2 separate regions of the Homo sapiens genome follow, and region 2 is linked to region 1. Evidence: fine-mapped expression QTL. Tissue or cell type: nasal epithelium. Region 1 holds a variant in brackets; the other region holds the start of a gene. All regions are shown on one strand. Distances are between the middles of the regions.

Evidence for each region. PIP is the estimated chance that this variant, and not a neighbour inherited with it, causes the effect.
Region 2: DMXL1 starts here. The variant in region 1 is fine-mapped to the expression of DMXL1 in nasal epithelium (TOPMed, PIP above 0.99). The same link has a PIP of 0.9 or more in lung and monocytes.

What each region holds. Positions count from the first base shown.
Region 1 is chr5:119,235,249-119,243,359 of GRCh38, reverse strand. It overlaps DMXL1 (Dmx like 1), which reads right to left. Exons shown (of 44, transcript NM_001290321.3): 40 at 5,946-6,038; 41 at 4,280-4,371; 42 at 2,889-2,941. Among named protein-coding and RNA genes, the nearest start is that of MIR5706, 85 kb to the right of the region's middle. The variant T/C (reference allele first, on the strand shown) is at 4,493.
Region 2 is chr5:119,066,951-119,075,061 of GRCh38, reverse strand. DMXL1 (Dmx like 1) reads right to left here and starts at 3,975. Exons shown (of 44, transcript NM_001290321.3): 1 at 3,406-3,975. The coding sequence starts at 3,492. DMXL1-DT (DMXL1 divergent transcript) reads left to right here and starts at 4,172. Exons shown (of 3, transcript NR_134250.1): 1 at 4,172-4,256. LOC124901209 (small nucleolar RNA U13) reads left to right here and starts at 5,662; the gene lies at 5,662-5,765. RefSeq lists silencers at 3,539-3,818, 4,129-4,208.

The DNA.
Region 1 (8,111 bases):
TGTAAAAGAGATTATCACCTACCTAATAGGGTTGCCTGAGGATTTAATATATGCAGATCATGTATAGTCCATGGCATAAACTAAACACTTAGTTATTATTGTAAGACTTGAAATAAAATTAATTACAGAGAAGGAACTTTGACCAGCACTTTGAGATATAACTTCCCAGAGGAAAATGCACACTTTTTAAGTATATACCTTGATGAGCACTGACAAATGAATACATCTGTGTAACCATCACTAAGATCAAGGTACAGAATATTTTCATCATCCCAGAACGTTCCTTCATGCCCCTTCATGGTCAATTCTCCTCCCCAACAAAAGCAATCACTATTCTGACTTCTATCCAATTAGTTCATTCCAGAAGTTCTATTATTTTGCATATTACATGCAGGTTTATGGTCCATTTTGAGTTAATTTTTATGAAAGGTGAGGTCTGTATCTGGGTTCAATTTTTTATATGTTGACATTAAATTGTTCTGGCATTATTTGTTGAAAAGACTATCGTTTCTCCACTGAATTGCCTCTGTGACATATTAAACATAAGTCTACTATATATGTGAGTCTATTAGTGGGCTCCCCATTCTGTTCTATGATCTATATGTATATTCTTAAGCTAATACCACAATGTCTTGATTACTGTAGCTTATAAGTGTTGAAATCAGATAGTATAATGTGAGTCCCACAAGTGTGTTTTTCTCTAGTATTTGGTTGGCTATTCCTTTGCTTTCCCATATAAACTTCAGAATCAGTTTGTTGATATCTGCAAAGTAGCATGCTGGAATTTTGATTAGGATTGTGTTGAATCTATAAAATCAAGACGAACTGACATCTTAAGAATATTGTGTCTTCTAATCTGTGAATGTGGAGTATCACTCATTTATTTAGATCTTCTTTGATTTAAATCATTTTTATAGTTTTGTGCATACACACCCTGTACATATTTTGTTAGATTTATGTCTCAGTATTTCATTGTTTTGGGTGCTATTGTAAATGGTAATATTCTTTAAATTTCAAATTGCAATTGTTCATTGTTGATGCATCAAAAAGCAACTGAATTTAGTACAGCTGACCCTTCAACAACACTGGTTTGAAATGTGTGGGTCCACTTAGATGTGGTTTATTCAATAGATATATTGGAACATTTTTTAAAGATTTGAGATAATTTGAAAAAACTTGCAGACAACCCACATAGCCAAGAAATATCCAAAAAATTAAGAAAAAGTATGCCATGAATGCATAAAACATATGTAGATACTAGTCTATTTTATCATTTACTACCATAAAATATACACAAATTACAAAAAGTTAAATTTATTGAAACATACGCACACAAATACAGATTGTAAGTGGTGCCATCGACAGTCGAGAAATGTAAACAAAAATACAGTATGAAATCATAAGTACATAAAATTAATTATAGTACATACTGTACTACTGTTATAATTTAGTAGCCACCTCCTGTTGCTATTGCAGTTAGCTCAAGTGTTGCGAGTATATACTTAAAATGCTGTGTGATGCTCATCATCTCCATGTGAGCAGGTCTTCTCTCCAGTAAACTGTATATTGCAGTGAAAAGTGATCTCCTGTGGCACTTGTGAATTTTTCATTGTATTTAGTGCAACAGTGTAAACCTTGAATAACACCATGGGAACCATACAACATGCCACTAGTAATGCTGGAAGTGCTCCCAAAAAGCAGACCAAAGTCAAGACATTACAAGAAAAAAGTTGAATTGCTTGATATGCACCACAAATTGAGGTCTGCAGCTGTAGTTGCCTGCCATTTCAGACAGATAATTCATCTTTTTTTTTTTTTTTTTTTTGAGACGGAGTCTTGCTCTGTCGCCCAGGCTGGAGAGCAGTGGCTCCATCTCAGCTCACTGCAAGCTCCGCCTCCCGGGTTCACACCATTCTCCTGCCTCAGCCTCCCAAGTAGCTAGGACTACAGGCATCCACCACAACGCCTGGCTAATTTTTTTTTGGTATTTTAAGTAGAGATGGGGTTTCACCGTGTTAGCCAGGATTGTCTAGATCTCCTGACCTCGTGATCCACCCGCCTTGGCCTCCCAAAGTGCTGGGATTACAGGCATGAGCCACTGCGCCCGGCCTCAGACAGAAAATTCATCTTGTAAACAGATGACATAAACTTTACAATATCAATAAATACAGTACACTACTGTATGTACTCATGATTTTCATAACATTTTCTTTTTTCTAGCTTCCTATAAAACACATATACAAAATATGTGTTAATTGACTATATTAATAATAAGGTATCCAGTAAACACTAGGCTATTAGTAGTTAAATTCTGGGGGGAATAAAAAATTATGATTTTCATCTGTGCAGGGGTCAGCATCCCAATCCTTATGTTGTTCAAGGGTCAACTGTATATTGACCTTGTATCCTGGGACCTTGCTATACTTGTGAATTTATTTTGTAGATTCTTTGGGATATTTTATAGAAAATTATGTTTTCTGTGAATAAAGACAGTTTTATTTCTTCCCTTCCATTTATATACATTTTATTTCCTATTATTGTGTTACTGCATTAGCTAGGAATTCCAGTGCAATGTTGAATAGGAGTGGTAAGAGGGGACATAATATTGAGTTTACATCATGTTTACAACGATAACCTGTGGCTATCAGATTCAAAGTAAAGACAAATGATTTTTATATTATCGATGTCTCACTGTCCCCCATCAAGGTATAGTGAAGAGTTAATTACGTATATTGCATCTTTTTGCTTTCAAATCCTGCCATCCTGGGCAAAAGAAATCTCATGGGTTAATAAATATATGTGTCATCAGTAACAAATCCACTTATAAATAATATTTAGCTTATGAATTTCCTGACTTTCAAAATTTATAAAATGCTTTGAAAACTTACCATGGACTAAACTATTGGCAGGTGCTACAAGAGTATCCCACAAACATACGTTTCTGGAAAAAAAAAAAAAGATTACTTCTGAGTGACACAAAAGCTAACAATAAAAAATATGTCATATATAACTGTGTGACCTTTAAACCTTGCTGTCACAGAAGGTTCTTAAATTTATAAAAGCAACAAATACAAGTAACCAACAAATTTATATGAAACTAATTTTTATATAAAAAAAAGAATGCAGTGGTGGAATCTTGGCTCACTGCAGCCTCGACCTTCTGGGCTCAAGCAATCTTCCCACCTCAATGTCCCGAGTAGCTGGGACTACAGATGTGTGCCACCATGTCTGGCTAATTTTTTAAATTTTTTTTTGTAGAGATGGAGTCTCCCTATGTTGCCCAGGCTGGTCTCAAATTCCTGGGCTGAAATGATCCTCCTGCCTCAGCCTGCCAAGGCACTGGGATTACAGGCATGAGCCAACATGCTCTGGCTACAATTTTTTGTTTTTTTTTTTTTTTGAGATGGAGTTTTACACTCTTGTTGCCTAGGCTGGAGTGCAATGGTGTGATCTTGGCTCACTGCAACCTCTGCCTCCCAGGTTCAAGCGATTCTCCTGCCTCAGCCCCCAGAGTAGCTGGGATTACAGGCACCTGCCACCACGCCTGGCTAATTTTTTGTATTTTTAGTAGAGATAGGGTTTCACCATGTTGCCCAGGCTGGACTCAAACTCCTGGCCTCAAGTGATCCGCCCACCTCGGCCTCCCAAAGTGCTGGGATTACAAGCATGAGCCACTGTGCCCGACCCACAATTTTTACAGAAAATTTAAAGCTACTATTATAGCTTAAAAATTTGAATAACTTTAGATTAACATGCGTTTACAAATAATAATATATGAAGTCTGAATATGGAAACTTCTTTTTGTATTCACTGAATCTCTAACAGTTGGACTGACATACATTAACAGGAGAGATGCTGAATTTTCTTAAGCACAAAGAAAACTTGTTTCTACTGTGTGGGGGGACCAACATACGTAAGAAATATCTACGGAAGACGAGCTGAAGAATCTATAGTCTTACAATCCTGTTTCTAGTGCAAAGTGTGGCCTTACAGATAAATATATAAGCTAAGCAAACTCAGTGGGCCTTGATCTCAGAACTCAGTTATATAACAGAAATCAAAAGAGGCAGACAGATACTGGGGCAGGAGATGACACTTTCTTACAACCACAGCTTTTGGGGGTGGGGCTGGAATAACATGGCCAATAAATAATAGTTTTTAGAATAAAAATACTGTATCTAAAGCCATAAGTAAACTTTAGTCAAACACAAGGACAGAAACAATAAAAAAAAGTTCAGCTATACTTTCTCATACTTCAATTTTAGCTATCATCTCTTACCTATTGTCAGTTGAAAGACCAGCTGTAGCTATCAGAGAGGAGGAACTAACGAAGACAAAATCATTGGCTGTTTTGTTATGACACTGCCAAGTCTGGAATGGTTACAAACAATACGTGTTACTCCTCTCACTAAAAATGTCATAACCAGGTAAATGTATTCTTCGAAAAGTGATCATGTAGTTTCTGGCTTTCTTAAATCCTCTGTATCGTTTT[T/C]TTCCTTTGAACTTTAGAAAAATTGTAAAAGTAATACAGAGAACTTTCATATACCTTTTACCCAGATGCAGCAACTTTTTAACATTTTGGCACATTTGTTTTGCCTCTACTTCTCTTTCATATTTGTAGACACCCACGCATACACACACTTTTCCTGAACTATTTAAGTAGGCTGCATATATCATGACCCGTTATGAATCTCTTTGCTTTTGTTCAACCAAAAGTTCAAAGGAAAACATGAGGTTAAACTTAAAGACCTTCTCCTAGCATAGTGAAAATTTCTGTTTCAGAAGATAGAAACTAGAATTTTAGATGATACCAGACTTTTGTTAAATAATTGACATATATTTTTCAAAAATATTTAAGCTTTTAAAAATTCAAGTACATGAAAAAAATTACTAATAGTCATCAAAATTAGAAAACATATAGCATTTTTCAATATTCTACCAAACAGTACACTTAATTATGAGGTTTCTTCATTTATAAAAGCTTCAAAATTATGTTTTACATATTTCTCTTTAATAAAAAATGATTTTTTTTAAGTATCCCAAAATCACCACACCAAAGATTATTCCTTTGAGCCAACTCCCCATTTCCCCTGGAACACTACTGGAGCTGGGCTAGATGATGTGTCCTTAAAACAGACAAAATCCTCTTAATCTCCAAAAGCCAGTTATTCATAATTTAAACCAATTCATTTTTTTAAAAGTTAAAAAAAACAGTCCCTTAGAGAACAAACTTATACATCTAAATCTTTAAGCTTAATAAAAATATGAGAAACAGTTAATATTCTTTCAAGGTACCCTAATCAATCCTCCCATGCTTGCTTGCTTTTACTTAGATCAGTACTGTATTCTAGCAATTAACCTTGGGCAAATTACCAGAATCTTAACCTATATTCTTAACTTTTTTTCTGATAGGAATTGCTTAGTCCTATAAAGAGCTTCACTGAAGATATGAAATATAAATTCAGTATTCTATGAAGCCACAGAAAGTTCATAAAAGCCTGCATAATCCTAAATTAAAAGAGATGAACAAGAAAATAACAGTACCAGCTATAGGATGTCCTTTTCACTTTGTTTGTTCATAAGAGATAATTGCAGAAAAATAACCAGACGCATTGGTCTGGTAATCATTCTATTTAGGCATAATATAATAACCAGTTTAGTGAGGTTAGAAAAGGGCTCTAGTAATCCACAAGATGTATAGGTATCTGGGGGTATCATGTTGCTTCTATACATGTCAACTTCCCAAATTATCAGAGACTAAGGAATTTTATGCTTCACAGAGTAATTTTCACATAACACAAGGACAGAATCTTACAGCAAAGTGACTGAGAACACAGGACTATATTTTATTTATTAGTTCTATATTTCTTGTCTCAAATACGTATTCTTGGTTTATTTAAAATGAAAATTCAAATTTTATTTAAAGGTAGAAATTCTTGGCTTACCAGGTATGGCTTAGGCATGCTTCCAGTAACTGGACAACATTTCCAGTTTGTTTGATACAAACTTAAATATCCATCAGCATCAACTATTCCAAACTTAGAGAAAGAAAATATTTAAAAGTATTTAATATAAATATAAAAGCATATATTTATCCTTACCCTCAGTGTGACACCCATATTTTGACTCGTAAACATTTGACTGTATGTCATGTGATTTTTCACTTCACCTATACATGGATCTATTTCAGAAAAACATTCAGCTACTACTTTAAAAATCCCAGGGTGAACATAAAGAGAACAAACATCAGACACCCATTTTATTACAGTAGCCTCTAGCATAGTCTATATATTCTCTGTAAGTATTACAAAAACAGGATACTGGATTAACAGATTATGCTATGTGACAGAACTTTATCATATATAAGAAAGAAAACTGTTCATTTCCAGAAAGATAAAATAAGGATTTTCAGAAACAAACAATAAGGAAAACACATGAACAAGAGTACAAAGTAAAATGATATAAGGATTATCAAAGTAAAATAATTCCGCTATGGGAGCTCAGGGCAAGTCTGACTGGTAAGATGTCAAAATAATCCACTAAGGGAGGTATTCTTGATACAGATCTTGAAGGATGAGTAAGACAGCTAAATTTTTTCCCTTTGATTATAAAAATAACGCAGCTTATTATAAAGTATATAAAATAAATGTCTGCTTTGTACTCCCACCCTCCTCTGCCTCTAGATCTAACATCTATTAACAATTTGATGTGCTTCCTTTCAGATTTGTTTCTATGAGTATTCAAAAATTCACAATATAGCATTTAAAAAATTGGGATCATAATAATACCACTACACAATTACATTTTTTATTTATTATAGCTATCTTTCCCAGGTAATTACACATAAATTTAGATCATTCTTGTGCTGTGTGTAGTATTACACTGTACAGTGGTATTACAATTTAAAACTTTCCCCATACCGTTTTCAATTTTCTGTAATATAAAAAGGGCTGCTTTGAACATTCCTATATATACATATACCTTTGCATAATTATGTAGGATAGACATCTAGAAATGGGAAAGTTTTGTTAAAGAGCATCACTTAAAATTAATAGACTATGCCAAAATTAAATCCTATGTGGTAATATAAATTGATACAGCCATTTTTCTTACACTTTAGTTAACATGGGGTATTTTTAAAATCTAAAATACTTGTTAATTTTATGCAGACAAGAATAAGTCTCAATTTATTTGCACTTCTTCAATTATTAGTGAAGGTAGAAGGCTACTGGCCAGGCAAAGTTTCTTGGTAAACTGTTAAGATGTTTTATCTATTTCTCTACTATTTGTCTTTTAAAAAATTTAACTGATATGACTAATATTATGAATATTAACCTACTGTTTTTATATTTGTTAATAATATTTTCCCAGGTCTATTCCTTTTTCTAGTTTATCTTACATTTTCTGGAGTAGATCTAGGTATGTTCTTCAGAAAGGGTATACACATGGAATGTGTTAAGTCTCTGTATACCTAAAAATATGTTTATTTTGCTAGCAAATTTGAATGATAGTTTGGATGCACATCGACTCAGTTCCCATTCCTTGTCCATCAGAATTCTGTGGATATTGTTCTCCTATCTATTTGTGACAGGCCAACGACATTTAGTGGCAGGGTGGGATGTGGGTTGTAAATAACCTTTTTCATTCTCACTCCTTTTTAGAACCTTATAGGATTCTCTCTTTAACTCTAAAAACCAAAAGTTACACAAACAGGATGTGTGCAGGTACGTGTTGCTTCTCAATACTTGGTAGGCCCTTTCTCTTCCAATATTCTATTCTTTGCTTTGGGGAAGTATCTATTATTCCTTTGAATATTGTTTTTCCTCCATTTTTTTCTTCTGAAATATTTCCTAAATTATCATCATTATGGGATAGTTTCTTAATTTGTGCTTCCCAGCAACAAACCTGATTTTCAACTATTTCCATTCTGCTGTTCAGCTTTTCTAATAAGTAGTTCCCCCACTGACCACATTTTTGGGAATCGTATTTTTAATTTCCAATAACTCTTTTCTGTTTTCCTACTGTCCTTGTTTAATGCTAGCATGTTCTTGTTGTATAAATGTAATATATTCTTGAATCTCTGAGGAATTAGTCCTCATAGGTTATTTATT
Region 2 (8,111 bases), 170 kb after region 1:
TAATTTTATGAAAACTGACATTTTTGAGAGTTTTACATGTGCTAAACCATGGACTTACAGCTTAGCACTTTTTCATGTAGCAACTCTATGAATAATACTCTTTTAGTCCCATTTTACAGAAGAGAAAAAAAGAAATTCCAAGAGTATAACTTGCTAATGGATAAACAGCTAATTAAAAGGGACCACATTGGAAATCAACTCCAAGTAATGACCTTACTGTTAGGTTTAAACACTCTTTCAATCACTGTTCTAGGTGCTCACAATGAAGCGTGGGAAGTCATACACATACAATCCACAAGGCAAGACTGGTTAATGATAGAATAAAGATGCAAAGAAAGTGCTCTGAAAGCACAGGAGAGATGGTCATTGCCCACAAGAGGTTTTCTTACTAAGAGCAAAGTCAAAACAGCTTGATGCCTGATGAGGTAGTAAAAAAGTATCTAATACTTAAATAGACTAATCTGCGTTGGTAATTTCATATTTTCAAATCTAGAAAATAGGAGAAGTGGCATTCAGTTTCATTTCCATTTAAAACCTGTCAGGCTTTATGAGTAAAACAAGATCTCACATCTTGTAATCTTTCAAACCAAGAACACGTAAGTTATCTGCAAACATGCAAAGGGAGGAATTACAAAAGCAGGACTGTCCTAAAAGAAAACACAAAGTACCAAAAGGAATAAAAGAATTTTTCAAGGGGAACTGCAAGAGGAAGATGTCATGCTCCACTTCAAGTAAAATGCAACTGAGGGATATTTTAGTCTTCACATACCATCTACCATTAATGTTTACTATTTTCCTATCAAAGAAAAGTCAAAATCAAAAAAGGTTAAAAACAACACTCAAGGCTGGGTGCAGTGGCTCCCGCCTGTAATCCCAGCACTTTGGGAGGCCAAGACTGGTGGATCACCTGAGGTCAGGAGCTCCAGACCAGCCTGACCAACATGGTGAAACCCCACCTCTACTAAAAAATACAAAATTAGCAGGGCATGGTGGCACATGCCTGTAATCCCAGCTTCTCAGGAGGCTGAGGCAGGAGAATCTCTTGAACACAGGAGGCGGAAGTTGCAGTGAGCTAAGATCGCGCCATTGCACTCCAGCCTGGGCAACGACAGCGAAACTCCGTCTCAAAAAAAAAAAACAACACAAAACAACTCAAGAAGTAAACAATAGATTCTGCCTTTTAACATGAGAGAAGAAAAAAGGGCGATTTCAAGAGAGAAAAATTTAAGGTGTATATAAGTGTCCAGGATAATGAGCGTAAGCAACTTAAAGAGTCAAGGATGAACAGGCTGCAAAGGAAAACCATGACTGTTAAATCCTTAAAATTCCATCAAAACTAAAGAGAGCTGAACTCTCTTTATACTTAAAAATTTATTTTTAGTTTATTTACTGAATGCTTCCAGAGACCTGGAAGAAATCTGCAGTAGGCTTGGTGGGAGATTAAATCCTACTCAATGGAAATGAACTTTAAAATTCAGCAGAACTGAGCAACAAGCTACATGATGGTACAGGATGACCATCTATCTAATCCTCCTCGGCACATTAACTGATCTCTCCTTAAAAACAATACACAGACATTCACCAAGGTTTTATAGAGGAATGCATCCAGGTATATAAATAGGCCATCATACTGCATATGCTTTGAAGTTCACACCACTGCTTACATAGATTGTGAATGCCTTCTTAGAAAAAATTCTTAGGGCTGGGCATGGTGGCTCACGCCTCTAATCCTAGCATTTTGGGAGGCTGAAGTGGGAGGATCACTTGAGCCCAGGAAGTCAAGACCAGCCTGGGCAACATAAGGAGACCCCTCTCTACAAAAAATAGAAAACTTAGCCAGCCGTGGTGATTAGAATCTGTAGTCCTAGCTCCTCAGGAGCCTAAGGTGGAAGGACGGCTTGTGCCGGGGAGGTCGAGGCTGCAGTGAGCTGTGATCCCGCCACTGCACTCCAGCCTAGGTGACAGAGGGAGACCTCATTTCAAAAGTTTTTAAAAAGCAAAAGTTCTTAGAATTTACACTGGAGAAAGCACTCATATAAATTTAGGAAATGACAGAGAATGCAACAATATTATCCTATAATTTCCCACTAGGAAAACCTTCTAAGGATGATGTTTACTTTCCTCTCAAGCAGCAAGAGCAGAGAGCAATGCCCAGGTGTAAGGAAACTATAGTTGCTCACTGGGACCCTCAGAGCTCACTCTTTTCCCAAGTATTCAGGCTGGGCAAACATTTAGAATTGGAATCCCGATAATTAAGATGTGTATGAGTCAATCTAAAGGGGAGGTACAGTCTCTATTTGAAAACAAAATGCTTCTTGGCACAATTCTAAAAGTACAATTCAGGCATTAAATGCCTCCACCATTTTAAATGCTGAGTATTATTTATTCTGACCAACAAAGACCACAGAAAAATTAAAAGCAGAGAAAAAGATTAGAAATTTAACACTCCTAAACCTGGGGCATTGGTTACGTTGTTTACTTTGTGTCACTTATACAAAATTAAGTTTTACTTTTATTTTTTTTAAAGAAAAAAGCCTACAGCACTTAGTATTCCCAGGCAGTGACAAGTTTTACTTTTAATCACAACTAAAGAGGTATCTACACAAATTGTAGCAAAAATCATTAGCATTATAAATTTATGTAGATAAAAGTATCATGTGCAATTACTGACTTATATTTTGAAATTGTTATTAAAAAAAAACCTATAGTTAAGGTAGAAAAATGCCACTATACTGACAAGTAGCCCGAAATTTGGTGCCCTCTTCTTGTCAATATGTGACCAATGAAAAGCAAGTTAAGCAACCTTAACCTGGGATTACCAGGTTATTGTAAAATATCCAAGAAATATTTTTAAAAATGAAAAGGCTTTTTTTTCTTTCCGAAGTTATTTCTCAGGGAATTAGAAAAGAAAATAAATGAAAAACACTGTTCTCAAGGCTAGTTGTTGATGGCAAACAATTGGTAATTGTTTTGAGACACCCACTTTTTAACTACAAAGATACTTGACCTTAACTTAGAATACAAAATGAAACCAATCTCCACTATTCCTAAATTTGACAATTTGAACCTATAGAATGGTATAAAAAAGCCCCCAACTCGTTACTCAACAAAGATTTTTGAACAAACGACTTTGGCAAAGCACCCTGGCCCAAGGCAGACAGACCAAAAACTTTAAAAATCCTACAAAATATTCTAACTTGAGTTCAGGCTCCATACAGTACCTCACTGACCGACATGGTTTTGCTTCCTTAGTTCTCAAGGGCCAGGTCTGCTGGGTTCTGGGTGGTAAGGACCCCCCTGGGGAGACAAGACCTCGCGCCTCTGCCCGTCGTTCTGGGCCAAGCTCGGCCCAGAATGACGGGCAAAGGCCGGGCCACGGGCGACGCGAGGGCCTCCCTCACTCACCGTGAAGCGCTGGTCGCCAATGCTGCCCACGGAGAAGCAGTGGTCGCCAGGGTTCACAGCCCCGGTCAGCACCTGGTGCAGGTTCATGTCGGCGCCCTAGTCCTGCAACGGACACCGCATCCAGCTCATGCCACGGGTCAGCGGCTGCTTCCCTCCCTCCTTCCCTCAGGGGCGGCGGCCGCTCTTCGGTGGCGACGGCAGAAGCAGCGACAGGCGCCTGGAGCCGGAGCCGCTCAGCTGGGGCCCGCGACTCATCCCGAGCCCCGGAGGGCGAGGCCCGGAGGGGGCGGGTCGGCGAGAGGGCGGAGCGCCGCGCTCCTTCGCGCACCTGTCACTCCCCGCGCTAGCCCAGGTGAAGCTCAGGGTCCCCTCACCGGCCACGACCCGGGGCCGACTCACCGGCCAGGAAGGCCGCGCTGTCCACACACTTCCTCTGGACCTCGGGCAGCCGCTCCTGACCCAGCCCGAGTGGCGCAAGCAGTACGCGCTCGCACTCCCCGCCTGACCTGTCCCTTCCCGGCTCCGGTGCCCGCCACCCCCACAGTCCTCCGCCACTCACTACGCGCCTCTGGATCCCTGCGGCCGAAATATCGCGAGACTTCGCTCGGGGCAGCTGCTACTGTGGTAAAGAATTCACTTTTTTACCACAGCGTGCGTATCAGCAAGTGAACATAAAAACGCCTCTTCTAGTCAGAAACTGGCCAATCCCGACCCCCGGTCCACCTAGGGCTCCGCCCACCACCGAGAATAAGCCAATCTCTTTGAGGCTTCTACAGGAGAACGCCGTGCGTTTGAGCTTGAACCTGATAAGCCTGGCAGAAGCCTGATGAACCCAGAATGAGTGAGATGTGGTAAGTTGTGCTTTAGGTTAGGGCGTCATCTAACTGTTGGGCCAGAAAATTTAAAGGGGAGAAGTGCATCCTAAAGGGAGTTGCAGTTTCCTCGGTTCTGGTAGGACTACAAGTCCCAATATGCACCGCTCCCCCGGGCGACCTGAGTGTCTCTTGAGTAAATGTGACCCTTGAAACGTCTACGTTAGCAGCTTAATGGTTTCTCCAGCCTTGCGCGTGTTTCCAAGTCCCTAAACGGGATGGTTTTTGAAAGGCTCGAACACTTGACAAGTAGGAAAGTGGTATTTTCTTAGCCTAAGTTATCTTAACACGTGATTTGAAATAGTGCTGGTAATAACAACACACCAGCCCTGCATTGAGCGTTTGTTTTGGAAAAGAACCTAGGAATTCCAGAATGATCAGAGTCACAGCTACAAACTGAGATTCAACTCTCATTGTATTTTGACACAAGTTTTGTATTATAATTGACAAACATCTGTTTATATGTCTCCCCCTGTATACCGTAAGCCTCTTTGGAATACAGAGGAACAGGACACAAGTCTGTCCTTAATGTCTAGCACCGCACCAGTCCCACCCATTCAGGGTGTTCTGTAAATGTTGCATGAATGTGTATAGAAACTCTCCAAATAGGCCAGGCACGGTGACTCACGCCTATTATTCCAGAACTTTGGGAGGCCGAGGAGGGTGAATCACGAGGTCAGGAGTTCGAGACCAGCCTGGCCAACATAGTGAAACCCCCTTCTCTACTAAAAATACAAAAATTAGCCGGGCGTGGTGGCTCCCACCTGTAATCCCAGCTACTCGGGAGGTTGAGGCAGGAGAATCACTTGAACCCGGGAGGCAGAGGTTGTAGTGAGCCAAGACCCCCGTTGCACTCCAGCCTGGGTGACAGAGTGAGATCCCGTCTCAAAACAAACAACCCTCAAAACTCTCCAATAGGCCAGGCACGATGGCTCACGCCTGTAATCCCAGCACTTTGGTAAGTCGAGGTGGGGGCGGGGGGATCACCTGAGGTTGGGAGTTCGAGACCAGCCTGGCTAACATTGTGAAACCCAGTTTCTACTAAAAATTAAAAAATTAGCCTGGCATGGTGGCACGCGCCTGTAATCCCAGCTACTGGGAAGCTGAGGCGAGAGAATCGCTTGAACCTGGGAGACGGAGGTTGCAGTGAGCCAAGATCGTGTCATTGCACTCCAGCTTGGGCAACAAGAGAGAAAGTCAAAAAAAAAAAAAAAAAAGAGAGAAAAGAAAATAAAGAAACTCCCCCTTTTGTTGTAGTATGAAGACTTCAAACTATAATAATACTAGGGTGGGACGAGTACTAGTAAATTTATTTCCTTTTATTTTTACTACATTTTTTGCAATGTACATTTACTTTGTCTGACAATAAAAAGCTACTTACGAGATACTTTTTAGTTCATAAGTGGGATGATTGTGTGTTCACACTTGTGTGAGACGTCCCTCCCTCAAACCTTGTTGCGCCATCATCTGCACATTACCCATCTGATGTGGGGAAAAAAAAAAAACCCGAAACTTATTTAAAAAATGAATTTCATTATGTATTCCAGGCTTTTCATAAGATAAGGGACAAAACTTAATTTGTCTTTTTTTAAAATATACTTATTTTTTGAGGTCTAACATACCTACAGTTTGTCTTTTATTATTTCAAATTATACTTCAAGTGCTTTTTAATTTTATATTTTAGACCCAGAACCAGGATTGTTGTACTTGTGTGGCTCCCACATAAATTCTGTGGCTGGTTCATAATTTAACATGTTTACTCATTCTATTTTGCCCATTTGTTAGTTTTGAAGAGCATTCCACGTATTAGAATAAAACTGAGCAACAAGATGCGGGGCGCGGTGGCTCACGCCTGTAATCCCAGCACTTTGGGAGGCCAAGGCGGGCAGATCATGAGGTCAGGAGATCAAGACCGTCCTGGCTAACACAGTGAAACCCCGTCTCTACAGAAAATACAGAAAAAAAAATTAGCCAGGCGTGGTGGCGGGCACCTATAGTCCCAGCTATTTAGGAGGCTGAGGCAGGAGAATGGCGTGAACCCGGGAGGCGGAGCTTGCAGTGAGCAGAGCTTGCGCCACTGCACTCCAGCCTGGGCGACAGAGCAAGACTCCATCCCAAAAACAAAACAAAACAAAACAAAAAACAACAAACAAACAAAATTCCCTTTGCCTCCAAGATGCTGCCCCTCACAGATCATCTCCTAATGTCATAAAATTCCCCTACTAAGGTTCTGTCGAATCCTAAATCTATTCCTGATTTATTGTGCAACTTTGACATGACTCTGACCTTATGGGAAGATTAATAAGAAGGTGGAGGAGGTGAAAGTAAATTTTAGGTTGTTTGCCCCTCATCCTCCTGTTCCTGTTTCCTTACTGCGGGTCTAGAAGGCAGCACTGCATGCCTCCATTCCACTTGCTCAAAGTCTCCACATTCCTTCTACCAAAGGCTCACAAATCAACCTGCTAATCCAAGAAATCCAGGAGAAGGGCCTGGTGCAGTGGTTAACACCTGCAATCCCAGCGCTTTGGGAGGCTGAGGCAGGAAGATCCCTGAACTCAGGAGTTCCAGGTTGCAGTGAACTATGATCACGCCACTGTACTCTAACCTGGGCGATAGACCTTGTCTTAAAAAAAAAAAAAAAATCCCGGAGAATTATTGAGTCTAATTATCCCCTCAACTATAATTGAATTATATCCTTCCATCCTTTGAATGCTCACTGACTGTGTGCTTTGGTGGTTTTCTTTTTTAGTTTCTAAAAAAAAATAAGAGAGAAAGGATGGCTCTACAAAAAAAAAAAAAAAAAAGTCTTGCTGTATGCAGCGCCAGTAGTCCCAGTTACCCAAGAGGCTAAGGCAGGAGAATCGTTGAGAGTCCAGGAGTTCAAGTCCAGTCTAGGTAAAATAGATCACGTCTCTTAAAAACCAAATAAAAAATTAAAAATAAAATAAAGGAAGTCTTTTATTGTATAGTTTGCATTATTACTAGCAGCAAGATGTCTTACATAACCGACGTGCCATGTGGTTTCTGAGATTGGCAGGCCAAAGATAAGTTTTGGTTTTCAATGCTAGTCTTCAAGAGGAGGGGGAATTTTTTTTTTTTTTTTTGGGACAGAGTCTTGCTCTGTCACCCAGGCTGGAGAGCAGTGGCGCGATCTCAAGAAGAGGGGGAATTTTATAAGAGTCAGTGGGTGGTGATAGTTTAAAGAAACCCAAGCAGGCCAAATTCTGAGATTCTTGGAAAGAAAAGGAGCATATAGGAAGCTAGCTCAGATTGGGAAATAATCATGCCTCTTGCCCACTCTTGATTTCTTGAAATCCTTGTCATTACCCTCCTCCCCCACCCCAAATAGACCAATCTAAATCCCTATTCTTGGCCGGGGGCAGTGGCTCACATCTGTAATCCCAGCACTTTGGGAGGCCCAGGCGGGCGGATCACCTGAGGTCCAGCGACCAACATGGCAAAACCCTGTCTTACTAAAAAATACAAAAATTAGGGCTGGGGGCGGTGGCTCATGCCTGTAATCCCAGCACTTTGGGAGGCCGAGGCAGATGGATCATGAGGTCAGGAGTTTGAGACCAGCCCGGCCAACGCAGTAAAACCCTGTCTCTACTAAAAATACAACAAATTAGACAGGAGTGCTGGCAGGTGCCTGTAATTCCAGCTACTCTGGAGGCTGAGGCAGGAGAATCGCTTGAAGCTGTGAGGTGGAGGTTACAGTGAGCCAAGATCATGCCATTGCACTCCAGCCTGGGTAACAAGAGTGAAACTCCGTCTCATGAACAAACAAACAAACAAAAAATTATCAGGGTGTGGTGGCACGTGCCTGTAGTCCCA